Linked DNA regions of Homo sapiens: region 1 is linked to region 2. The links come from fine-mapping of genetic effects on gene expression. A gene starts in region 2. The other region holds a variant in brackets. All regions are shown on one strand. Distances are from middle to middle.

Region 1 (5,360 bases), 91 kb before region 2:
GGAAGACAGAACGGGGTAAGAGAGAGAAGAGGAGAGAAAGAACGCAGGAGAGGAGGGAGAGGAGAAAACGGAAAGGAGTCAGAGACTGGGAGGATGTCCAAGCTGCCGGGACCTCAGAGAACCCGTGTCGTTAGCTACCGTGCCTGAAGGGGGACAACAAACACGGAGGACGGAGGTGAAGGCACGACAGGAGGGAGACAAGCAAAAGCCACAGAGACCTGGCTGACGGGGGGGAGGGGAGGTCGAGCAGCGCTAGGTTCTTACAGGCAATCCGGGGGAGCCAACAGCACCAGGAAAACCTGGGGGGCCCTGGTGGGAGAAACAGGCAGGTCACATCTCACAGGCACAGTAACCCTGGGACAGCCTGGAGGGCACAGTCTGGGGCTTGGGGGTCATGGGGAGAGGAGGTCATGGGAGTATTTTCAAGGCAGCTGGAAAAGAGACTCCTTGAAAGTCTTGGCTCAAAAGACAACTGTTCCTCCCCTTGGCTCCAGGAAGAATGGCTCCTCCGTTGACGGAGATGCGGAATGGCTCCAGAGTCAGAGGGCTTCCTGAGTCTTCCGGAGTCTAACTGAAGATCCGGTTGCAGCAGAAGCCCATTTCTTTCAGCCTTGCCCACCATGCCTGCCACCCGACCTCCACCTGTCCCCCGAGTGGGGGGCTCCCTGGCTCTAAGACAGCTCCCACCAGCCATTTTCTTCTCCAGAGAAAGCATTTTCAGTTCTTTCAATCTTTCCTAGTCACTTCTATTTTCCTGCCATGTCAACATCACAGAGGACTCCAGAGTAGATACCCTGGTCTGGTTTTTGTAGATTTACCCTAGAGATGGCCCTACAGAGCAATGGAGGACAGCTCCATCTTAGCCCCGAGCCCTTGTGGGGACTGGAGTCACAGGGGCATGGAGAGGTCTGGCCAGCATGCCGCATGCTTCCCTGGTTGGGAGGCTGTGAGCCTGAAGCCTAGGCCCCCTGCCGAGGGCGGCCTGGGGCCACTGTGGAAAGCGCAGCAGAGGGTGGGGACAGGGAAGCAAAGAGGTGCCTCTGAGGACCTCCCCTAAGCAGGACCGCAGGCAGTAGGCAGAGCAGGGCGGTTCCAGGGCATCCGGTGGTGGGAGAGCACAGTCCCTGCAGATGCTCTGCGGAGGGATGGGGAGGGCAGTGGAAGTTCCCTCCTCCTGCCTTGCCCAGCCTTTTGGGGACAAGGCCGCGGGATGGTGTCTGAGTGTAATGACCCCTTTGAGAGCTTCTCAAGCAGACCAGGGCACCACTGATACTTACGATAGGGCCTGGAGGACCCGGGGAGCCCCTCATGCCAGGCGGACCCTGCAAAGGAAGCCAAGGGAAATGGATGAAGAGGCCCAGGCCCCATAGAGCCCCTGGGATTCCAGCAGCCTTCCTCCCAGCTTGCCAGGGCCAAGGTCAACAGAGGGTGGCTGCTGTCCAAGCAGGACCACTTAGCTGATGTTCGAACAATCTTTCATTTGGCCCATTCGGTCATCCTACAAACATTTAACAAGCAACTATTACGTACCAGGCATTAGTCCAGGGGCTAGGATCACAGCATAAACAAAATAAATAAAAACCCCTGCCTCAAAGCAGTTACATTCTAGGGGAGAGACGGACACTAACAAATAGAACAGGAGCTGGCACATAGTTGGTGTTGAGCTGACACCTGTAGAATGTTCCTGAATGAAGTAAATAGGCAGGATGTTGGATGGTGATGAGTATGATGCAGGCCAAGGGGACTGGAGGCTCTGGGGTTGGTGTGGAGTTCAATTTTAAAGAGGGTGGTCAGGGGAGGTCTCTCTGAGAAGGAGACATTTGAGCCGAGCTGAAGGAGTGCAGGAATAAGCCCTGGAGAAGAGCGTTGCAGGCAGAGGATGCAGCTGGGCACTGGGGAGAAAGAGTGTGTCCTACGCTGGGTCCTGTGTATCCCAGAGAAGCCACGTGCCAGGAGAGCAGATGAGCCCAGAGTGGTAAAGGGCATCAGTCAGGTGAGGCCTCGGAGGCCCCCAAGAGGTCTCAAAGGCAGACAGGGCCCCAGCTCCCTTGAGGATGAATCCCCATCCCTGGTCTTACCTCTTCTCCTCTCTGGCCTGGCAATCCCGGAGGACCAGGTAGGCCTGGGCTCCCAACACAGCCAGGATCTCCCTCACTGTTGTCACCCTGGAGAAGGATGGAGACGGTGATAGTGAGCAGTCAGGGCCTGTCCCTGTGGGGCATGGGGCATGATCGGGGGAGATAAGGCGAGGCACTCACCCGGGCCTCCTCGGCTCTTGGGCGCTCCAGTGACAAAAAGCACTGCAAGGGACAATGAGAGGCACATTGTCTGATGAGGCAGCCAGGGAACCCTCCTGCATAGGGCAGCCCCAAGCCCAGTCCCTTACCTGGGCGCAGTTGTCGAGGCCTGGCACACCAGGGATGCCCTGGTCTCCCTTCTCTCCCTTCTCCACGAGGTACCCTGGGTGGGCCCTCTGCCCCTGGACACAGTCCCCGCAGATACTCTGATCAGGGAGTGGGGAGAGGAGTGGGGCCTGGGTTAGAGATGGGCAGGATGGGCCAACTGGGGAGCCCCAGTGAGAACCCAGAGCCAGGGCTCCCTGCCCTGCCGTCTTCCCTCCTCCCACACTCCCTCCCTCCCCAGCCGCATCCCTGCGGCAGCTTTGCTCCATCCTCGGGGGACCCACTCCCAACAATTGGCTTTGAGTTTCCTCCAGGAAGAAGCTCTGGTACAGCTAAGCCAAAGCCACTTTCC[A/G]GACAGGCATGTGGGTGGAGGCGAGGGGCCCGCAGAGGGACCATCTGTCCCGGCTGTTCCTGCAACCTGCACCCACTGCGAGGACAAGCCACGAGGAGTGAGGCTGGAAAGGCTGGCTCCGAACGCCAGCTTCTCTGCCCAAGGGAGCAAAGGAACAGCTGCGGGAGGAGCCAGGCCCTTCCCAGGAGCCCCTGGGACAGATCTCAGATTGCTCACAGGCTCCTGGCTCGGATCGCGCCACCAGAATTGTCTTCCCCACAGGAAGGGCTTTAACCTTCTTTGGGTCACAGACCCCTCTGAGAGTTTGATGGAAGCTATGGGTCCTTTTCTCAGAAAAATCAAACCCACTAGTGAAAACCAGCCTGCAATTTCTGAGGACTCAGGAGCCCGGAGCCTGTTTGTGGCCAGTGTCGTGTCCACAGATGCCCAGGCAGGAGCCCCTGCTCACTTTCACTGCTCACCACCAAGCCCAGTAATAACGACTGGCATTTACTCAGCACCCATGACGCTGGGCATTGTACATAATAAGCCCTGCACATTATCACATGCCATCTTGACGGCGCAGTGAGACAGGGAATCTTATAAGCATTGTGGAGATGGGAAAGCCCACTCAAGAGAGGCGGCGTGACTTGTCTAAGGAAAGTGGGAGCCTGGATTGGCGTGGGCCTGTCCTAGGCCACAGCCAGTGCTCTCTCCCCAGGCTTCCTGGACTATGGGTGCAGGTGGTGGCTGGGGCTCTGGGTCAGCATGCCCCGGGGTGCCATCTGACCCCTTCTCCACACTATGCGCACTTTCTATTTGGAATCCTCTGAAGAGCACTTGATGAAGAAGCCAACAGATGAAATGTTACAGGAGAAATGTCAAATCCTGGATTTGGAGTCACACGATCACTGCCCAGTCATTGACAGAAGCAGAGGGGAGAAGAGCTGGGGGTTTCGTTGCCACAACCTCACTGTGATCCAACATGTAACTGATGCCAAGAGGTTACCCCGACCTCCTCTGGCTGCTTCTGGAGAAATCTGCCGTTCAGAGCAGGGAAGGGGTAGACAGCCCCCATGCTCTGCCCTGACCAAGGCCCATCGGGGTCATGGGATGTCCAGGGCACTAATTAGCCAGTGTCAGAAGAGGGTGGCCAGGATGAGGGGGGGCTCTGGAGGCCAACACATGGGAAAGACCCCTGAGGATGCTGGGCTAGAGGAGAGAAAGTCCAGGAACATAAGGGCCTCCTTCAAAAACCTGAAGGCAACCTGGGGAATTACTGTGCTCTCGTTTCTAGAGGTGACTAAGCAAAGATGGGCTATGTGACTCTTGATTCCAATAGGAACTTCTGCTCAGTTTGGGAAGCCGGCCCAGGCCACAGCCCTCTGGTAGAGCATTAAGGCTGTGTACAGGCCCTGGCACAGGCCGACCCTCTGACCAGGTCCGAAGTCCCCTTTCTTAGACTACCAGAAGTGCTTCTCAAATCCATCTCCTCCCTGGATTCTTTCTGGATTGACTAGAGAACAGCTGAAGCTTTCTTCCAGGCCACACCCAATCTCACAGCCCCCCACCACTGCACTTTCACCCCCTCTGCTTTGCTTTGGAAGCTGCTGGGCTCTGCCGCAGGGTGACCCGGGTGCTACGGGGTCTCATTGCCAGCTGCTGCGGGCAGGCTTCAGGGCTGGGTTCTGCCGACAGCATCTGCCATGTGGGCACCTTCACAGGATTCCTTTAAGCACTCATTCAGCAAATGTTGCCTGGGGGCCTGTTACAAGCCAGGCATCAGCTAGGCCCTCTTAGACAGATGCTTGGAATGCGTATTCCCTGCAAACTGCTGCTCTCTCTGCGAGGTGCCACACAGCTGAGCACTTACTAAGAGAATCCCCTTAGGAGACACCCCCGCCAGCTCACACTTCCCTCCTGGGTACCCTCTTACCTTAAGGAGGTGCTGTTCAATTGGTAAGGATCCCTGCAAGAGACAGATGTGTGGGCTCAAGCAGGTGAGGGGAAGGAACATGGAGACTTATGGGATCAGGGAGAGCCTTGGGACACGTCATGCACCTTCCAGCCTCAGAAGTGGGAGAGAAGAGGGACCCCCACTGCAGCTACCGGGCCAGCTTCATAGCCTGAGCAGCCCTGGGAAGGGCAGGGAAGGGGCATGCACAGGGAGTCCTGGCCAGTACCCACCAGTTCTGCAGTGAGCCCAGGCTGTCCTGGCAAACCGTTGTTTCCAGGCACTCCCTGTAGCCAAGAAGAGACACGAGTGAGTGGGCTCCATCTCTCTAGCCTGCTGGTCAGCCTGTTTCCTTCTCATCATCCCCGCCTCCTCTTCCCCTTGTCCTGCAGAGCTGAGAGCCCTGGCTGGCACAAGGCTGACATCTATTCTTAGCTCAAAAGCCTCTCGACCCTTATAGGGAAAGCCAGGGAGGCCCAGAAGAGCGACCCCCCAAACCGTCCAACAGCAAGTGTTTTCCCCCCACATCAGAGGGAAGGTCAGAAATTGAGCAGAGGGTCTTCCATGGAACTACTGTTTATTTCTGTGCTAAGTCGTTTTTCTATATTTTCTCTCTTTCTTTTTCCTTTCCTTTTCTTTTTTCTTTTTTTCTTTGTAGAGACGGGGTCTCACT
Region 2 (5,360 bases):
TGGCCTGGCTTTCACTAACATCCCTCTGGCCAGAGCTGATCCCAGAGAAATATAGTGGGAAGTTGCAGGACCAAGGAGGAGATGAGGGAAACTGACAGTCACTGGCTCCCCCTGCACCCATACTTTGGGGGAAAAGTGGAGACTGGGGGCTAAAGGTGTTTCTGTCTTTATTATACTGGGGGTTGGAGTGAAGGCACTGGAACCTGTTTTTCATTTTTCTCCTTTGGGATTAGGAGTGGAGTGGAGAGGGGCCTGACCTTGGCCTTGAACAGAAACAGCCCCACACCCCTATCAATATTGAGCATTGCTAGGTGCCAGACACTCTATACAAACAACCTAACTTCATTCTCCCAACAGCTATATGAGGCAGTGATCACTGACCCATTTTATAGAGGGTCAACTGAGGCTCAGAAAGATTAAGTAGCTTGCCCATGTCACACAGCTTTTGAACGTAGGTCGTCTGACCGAAAGCTGAATTCCTAACTACTTACTCAGCTTCATTACTTGGGGGTGGGAAGGGAGGGAGGGATGGGGGCAGATACCAGATGGAACCTCACTTTGTGTTACAGAAATGCAGACCACGCACGCACACCCCAGACTAGACATGTCCTTTTGAAGAGTGATACAGAAAGGGGGCAGAAGAGAGAGCGGAAGGAGGAGAGAGGGAAGAAGAGGGGAAGATCTCTTCTCTCAATCTTGGTCCAGAGAAGACCCTCCCTAACCTCCCCACTACCATCACCAGGACATATCCTGCGCAGAGTCCACACTGCCCCTCACCCCAGTAGCAGTGCAGAGGATACTCCCCAGGTGCTTGCTCTGTCCCAGGGTCAGGTGGATTCCCCCACAACCGACTCCATGCGCAAGCCAGGCAGAGCCCACCTTTGCCCCCAGCCCTCACCTCATGGGAAATGCCATGGGGTAGAGGCTCTCTGGCAACACCTGACCAAGCACAAACAAGCCCAACCAGGCGTCCTGGAGCCCGCGGCCAATCCTGCTGGTCTGTACGTGAAGGCTCAAAGGACTCTTGACTTGCTGCTGGGGTGAGCCCTCCACCCCACCCCAACCCATCCCACCCCCAGAACATATGGCCTGACAACCAGGAGTGTTTGGGCATGGCTAGCACGAGGAGGCACCTGGCCTGGCCCACCAATCTCCTCTCCCCAGGGATTTCCCAGCGTCAGTCCTGCAGCCACCGCTGATGCTCTGGCTGCGGAAACCCGGGGTTGCCCGCGGGAGAAGGGGTGGCGGGTCCCAGGCTTCGGGCAGGGGGCGCCAGAGGACGCCCAGGAGCCCGGCCGGCAGCTGGCGAGGCGGGCAGGCAGGCGGCATCTCTCGGCCCGGGCGCCCCTCCCCCCGGCGGGCAACAGACCCGTCGCCTGCTCTGCACGGGCCGCGGCGCGGAGGACTTCCCCCGGCTGTGCCCTCGGACCAAGCTGACTGCGGGAGTGGCCGCCAACTTCACAGCCTACAACCCCCTCCGGATCATGCCGGCCCTGGGGCTGCGGGAGGGTGCGTCTGGTGCCCAGCTCTATGACCAGGGGTGGGAGGATAGGGATGGGGGATGGACAGATAGACTCCGGCCAAAGATGGACACGGGAGTCAGGGATGCGGGTCCAGTCGGGATCTCAGCTGGAGGGGAGGGGGCGCGGAGCAGACACGGGGGACACGGCCCCAATTCCAAGCTGAGGGGAGGGGACTTGCAGCAAGATTGGCGAGGGAAGGCGGGACTCCGGTCAGATAGATATGGGGGAGGGGGCGCTAGGGGCAGAAATAGAGAAGAAGCATGGTCGGGGTACAGGCGCGGGGGAGGGTAGAAACTATGGGCAGACATGGATGGGGACAGGAAAGACTCCGGGCAGTGATGAAGTGGAGGAGAGGAGCAGGGTCCGGCATTCAGACCGTGACGGGAAATAGAGGGGGAGACACAGTTGAGCTGCAGGTTAATGGGGGGGCTCTAATAAAGGTGGGGGGCACACTGCCCGGATCCAGGCCGAGATAGGGAAAGACTCGAGACAGCAAGCACGGTCTGTGTCAGAATTCTGGAGGGGGAGACTTTAGCATAGATGGGTAAGAGGGTCGGTCCAGGCTGGGGGAGGGGGGGGGCCGAGATTAGAGATTCACCAGCGATTAAGGGGGCCTCGGCCCTAGGTTTGGGAGTTCCCCAGAAGATGGGGGTGGGCGAACGCTGAACGAACTCAGTTCGGGCTGGGGGAGAATTCAGCAGAGACGGGTTAGGAGAGCGCCCCGAGTCCGGGCCGGTGCGGAAACTCGGGACCGCGCCGGCAGGGCTCGGTGCGAGGCCAGGTCGGGGTCTGGGGCCGAGCACTCACCTGGGCGCCGTCAGCAGCAGGAGCGGGGGCCGGCGCTGGCGGGGGCGGCCACGGGGCGCAAGTTTGCCATCCCTAAGTCGGGGACCGGGCCGGGCGCAGGGTAGGTAGCTGCAGCCGCGCGGAGGGCCGAGGCTCCCGCTCTCCCGGGCGGCGGGTGCAGAAAAGGCGCCGCGGAGCAGCGCGGGGCGGGCGGGCGGGCGGCGCCGGGCCGGGCGCGGGCTCCTGCCGCCGCCGCCGCCGCCGCCTCCTTGCCGCGCCGCCCCCCGCTCCCCCGCTCCCCCGCCCCGAGCACCGCCCGCGCCGCGCGCCGCCTCCTATTTGCGGGCGGCGGCCGCAGCCCCGGGCTCTGAGAGCCGGTGCCGCATCCTCTTCGGTCTCTGAGCGCCGCCGCCGCTGCCGCCGAACCCGGTTCCTCCGGCCGCTCCGGCCGCTGCCCGCAGCGCGCGCCGGGCCGAGTGACGGCCGAGGCGGGACGCGGCGCCTGCGCGGGCCGGGCCCGGGAGGGGGCGCGCGCCGGGCCGGGCGCGAGGAGCCGCGGGAGAAGGGGCGGGGGCGACGCGCGCCGCCTCCTGTTAAAGGGGGAACAGCGCCAGCCGAGCCGATCGTGCCCCCCACCTCCCCGCCTTGGGCCCCAGGCGCCGGCGCGGGAGAAGCCCTGGGTAAGCCCCCGCCCAGCCCGCTGCTTCTTGGACCGCAGAATGAGGCGATCCGCGACGCCCCTCCAGCTATACCCATGCCGGAGGCTTGTCGCGCCGCCAGGGTGTCCCGGGCCCTGCAGGCTGAAGCATTTGCTCACCTTCCCATGTGCATTGCATATTGCATGTCCCTGTGCATGCAGGTGCCAGTCATGTGCGCTGAACTTTGCATATGCATACAGGTGCCCTAAGTGTGCACTGCCATGTTGCCTGGGTAGGTGCATGCAAGTGCCACACACATGCACGGTGTATTAACATGTGCCCAAGTCCTGAATGCATGTTGCTTGTTCCTGTGCGCAGGGATGTTATATGTATGCAAGCTTACAGGTGCCACATGTGTGCTGAGGACTGTGGGTAACTCATGTAGCAGCCACATATGTATACTGCAATGTGACATGTTTGATGCATACTGTAAACTGCAATGTTGCACGTCCTTAGGCACGGGGATGCTACACGTGTGCAGTGTGTTACATGTTTTCCTGAGTCCCTGTCTATTCCCACAAGTGCCTTTCCCTGTGCCAGGGGCGCCCCCATGTTGCATCTGTTTGTGTAGAAGCAGCAGAGATGTACAGACCCACCCCTTCCCCATCTTGGCACTAAGCCCAGAAACAGTTGGGTGGGGCCTGAGCCCTCATGGTTCAGGCGGTACACAGGGAGATGCCCATGGTTCAGGGCTCTGGTCAGGCAGTTTGTGGCCTGGGCATGTTGCCATCAGTAAGGTAGGCCGACCAGGGACGCACCATTGCAGCCAACACAAGTAGGTTAATCCCATGGCTTTGGTCAGAGGAGAAACCAGCAGGGGGCAGCTTTGCAATAAGGGTGGGATGGTTTCAGCTTTGCGATGAGGGTGGGATGGTTTCAGGACCATACTTTTTGAAGGTTCACTAGCCAGGAAGGGCCAAATTTTCAGTGCAAAGAAGTCCTCATTTCAGCAAATACCAACCCCACCTCTCCACTGATGCCCCTTAAGTTGTGGCACCCTCAAGATGGGGCAAGAAGAGAAAAGCCTACCTCTTCCCAGGGGCAGTACCAGGAAGAGGCATAGAACCGCCCTCTTTTCCCTCCTTCTGTCCCTCCCACCTCCAGCAGCCTCGGTGACATTTGTTGTGAGTGATTGTGAGAGATTATCAACTTTAATGGAAGGAGGTAATAAGGGACGATGAAGGAATCTCACCTGTCACCTTAAGAGAATTTATGAGGCCTTATGAGGCAGGGAGGAGGGCTGGGCCGGCACCTTCCCTTTCGCTGCGGATGCCCAAGGAGGCCTGTGCCTTGGGCCTAGCACTGGCAAGCAAGGCTCCTAGGGTTTGCTAGGCACCCTCAAACACAGTCAGACATCTCTGGATTTCAAGGCTCAGCTACTATGTGAAAGCCAGGCCAGGCAGGCCTTGCCAGCTGCAAAGTATGTTGAAAGCCACCCCAGGGCAGTGGGAAATCCGGGCCCCCTCCTTACATGGGCACTGGGAGGGGGAATGGGGTTGCTAGACTGGGGCTTCAAGGAGGTAGGCAAAAGTGGGGAAAATGGTGGAGACATGGGTTGCCCACAAGGATGCAAGCCCCTTAGAAATCTCCAGGACCCTGTCCAAAGCTCCAGCCCCCTCCTCTCCTACAGGGAGCTTGCTTCCCTCTTTTTGAATATTCATGATCATTAGCATATTAGATCAGAGAAACCTAGGCAGGTCTCTTGCAGATGTGATGCAGCTGGATGCCTGAGGCCCCCCCTCCTCCTTCCCCAGGAGGCAGCTGGGTGAGAGGTGATGGGAGGGACTGGCCCCAGATCGACAGCAGCGTTTTTGTCTGTCTCTCTGTTCCTCGCTAGCCCTCTGACTTCTTGATCCCTTCTATCAGCCACAAAAATGTACGCCCAAGGAAGCATAGGTAGACAGAGTGAGGGACTGACAGAGATGGTGTCCCTTAGCCGGGGGCTCAGTAGGGGCAAGGTGGGGAGGTCAGCAAGGCAAAGGGGGTTGTGGGAGCTGTGTGGGGAGAGCAGGACCTCCCCAGGGTTGTACAGGAGTGAGCAGGCGAGACTAGGGCTGACCTCTGGAAGGCTCTCCCTGGAGGCACCTCTCTGCATCAGGGTTTCCCCACCTCCTTTCCCAGGAGCCCCTGCCCTTCCAGACTCACTCTGGTAATAATGCCGCCCAGGAGGACTTGGAGTAATTACAAATCGTTTCCATATTCAAATCCAGCTGGTTGAAGATAAATTACTTCTCTGATGCTCAGGCGGGGGTGAAAAGAGCAAGCCTTAGCCCCAGGAGGGGCCTCCAGGGAGCCTGGGGCAGAGACTGGGCATGGGAAGGGGCACCGGCCAGAGCTTGAGCACAGAGGGCTT

Alleles and levels. Alleles are on the strand shown, and positions count from the first base shown. SD is a standard deviation of normalised expression in the study named.
In carriers of allele A in region 1, the expression in cerebellar hemisphere of the gene that starts at base 2,787 in region 2 tends to be lower than with G alone (large effect, 2.7 SD a copy in GTEx).

What was found.
Region 1: its variant is fine-mapped to the expression of ADGRB2 in cerebellar hemisphere (GTEx, PIP above 0.99). The same link has a PIP of 0.9 or more in cerebellum.

The regions. Positions count from the first base shown.
Region 1 is chr1:31,670,338-31,675,697 of GRCh38, forward strand. It overlaps COL16A1 (collagen type XVI alpha 1 chain), which reads right to left. Exons shown (of 71, transcript NM_001856.4): 43 at 4,921-4,974; 44 at 4,670-4,702; 45 at 2,387-2,503; 46 at 2,259-2,300; 47 at 2,079-2,165; 48 at 1,278-1,322; 49 at 265-309. LOC101929444 (a long non-coding RNA gene) reads left to right here. Exons shown (of 2, transcript XR_001737631.2): 1 at 1-15; 2 at 495-730. Among named protein-coding and RNA genes, the nearest start is that of PEF1, 28 kb to the left of the region's middle. The variant A/G (reference allele first, on the strand shown) is at 2,755.
Region 2 is chr1:31,761,554-31,766,913 of GRCh38, forward strand. ADGRB2 (adhesion G protein-coupled receptor B2) reads right to left here and starts at 2,787. Exons shown (of 33, transcript NM_001364857.2): 1 at 2,331-2,787. RefSeq lists an enhancer at 405-1,258 and a silencer at 1,200-1,469.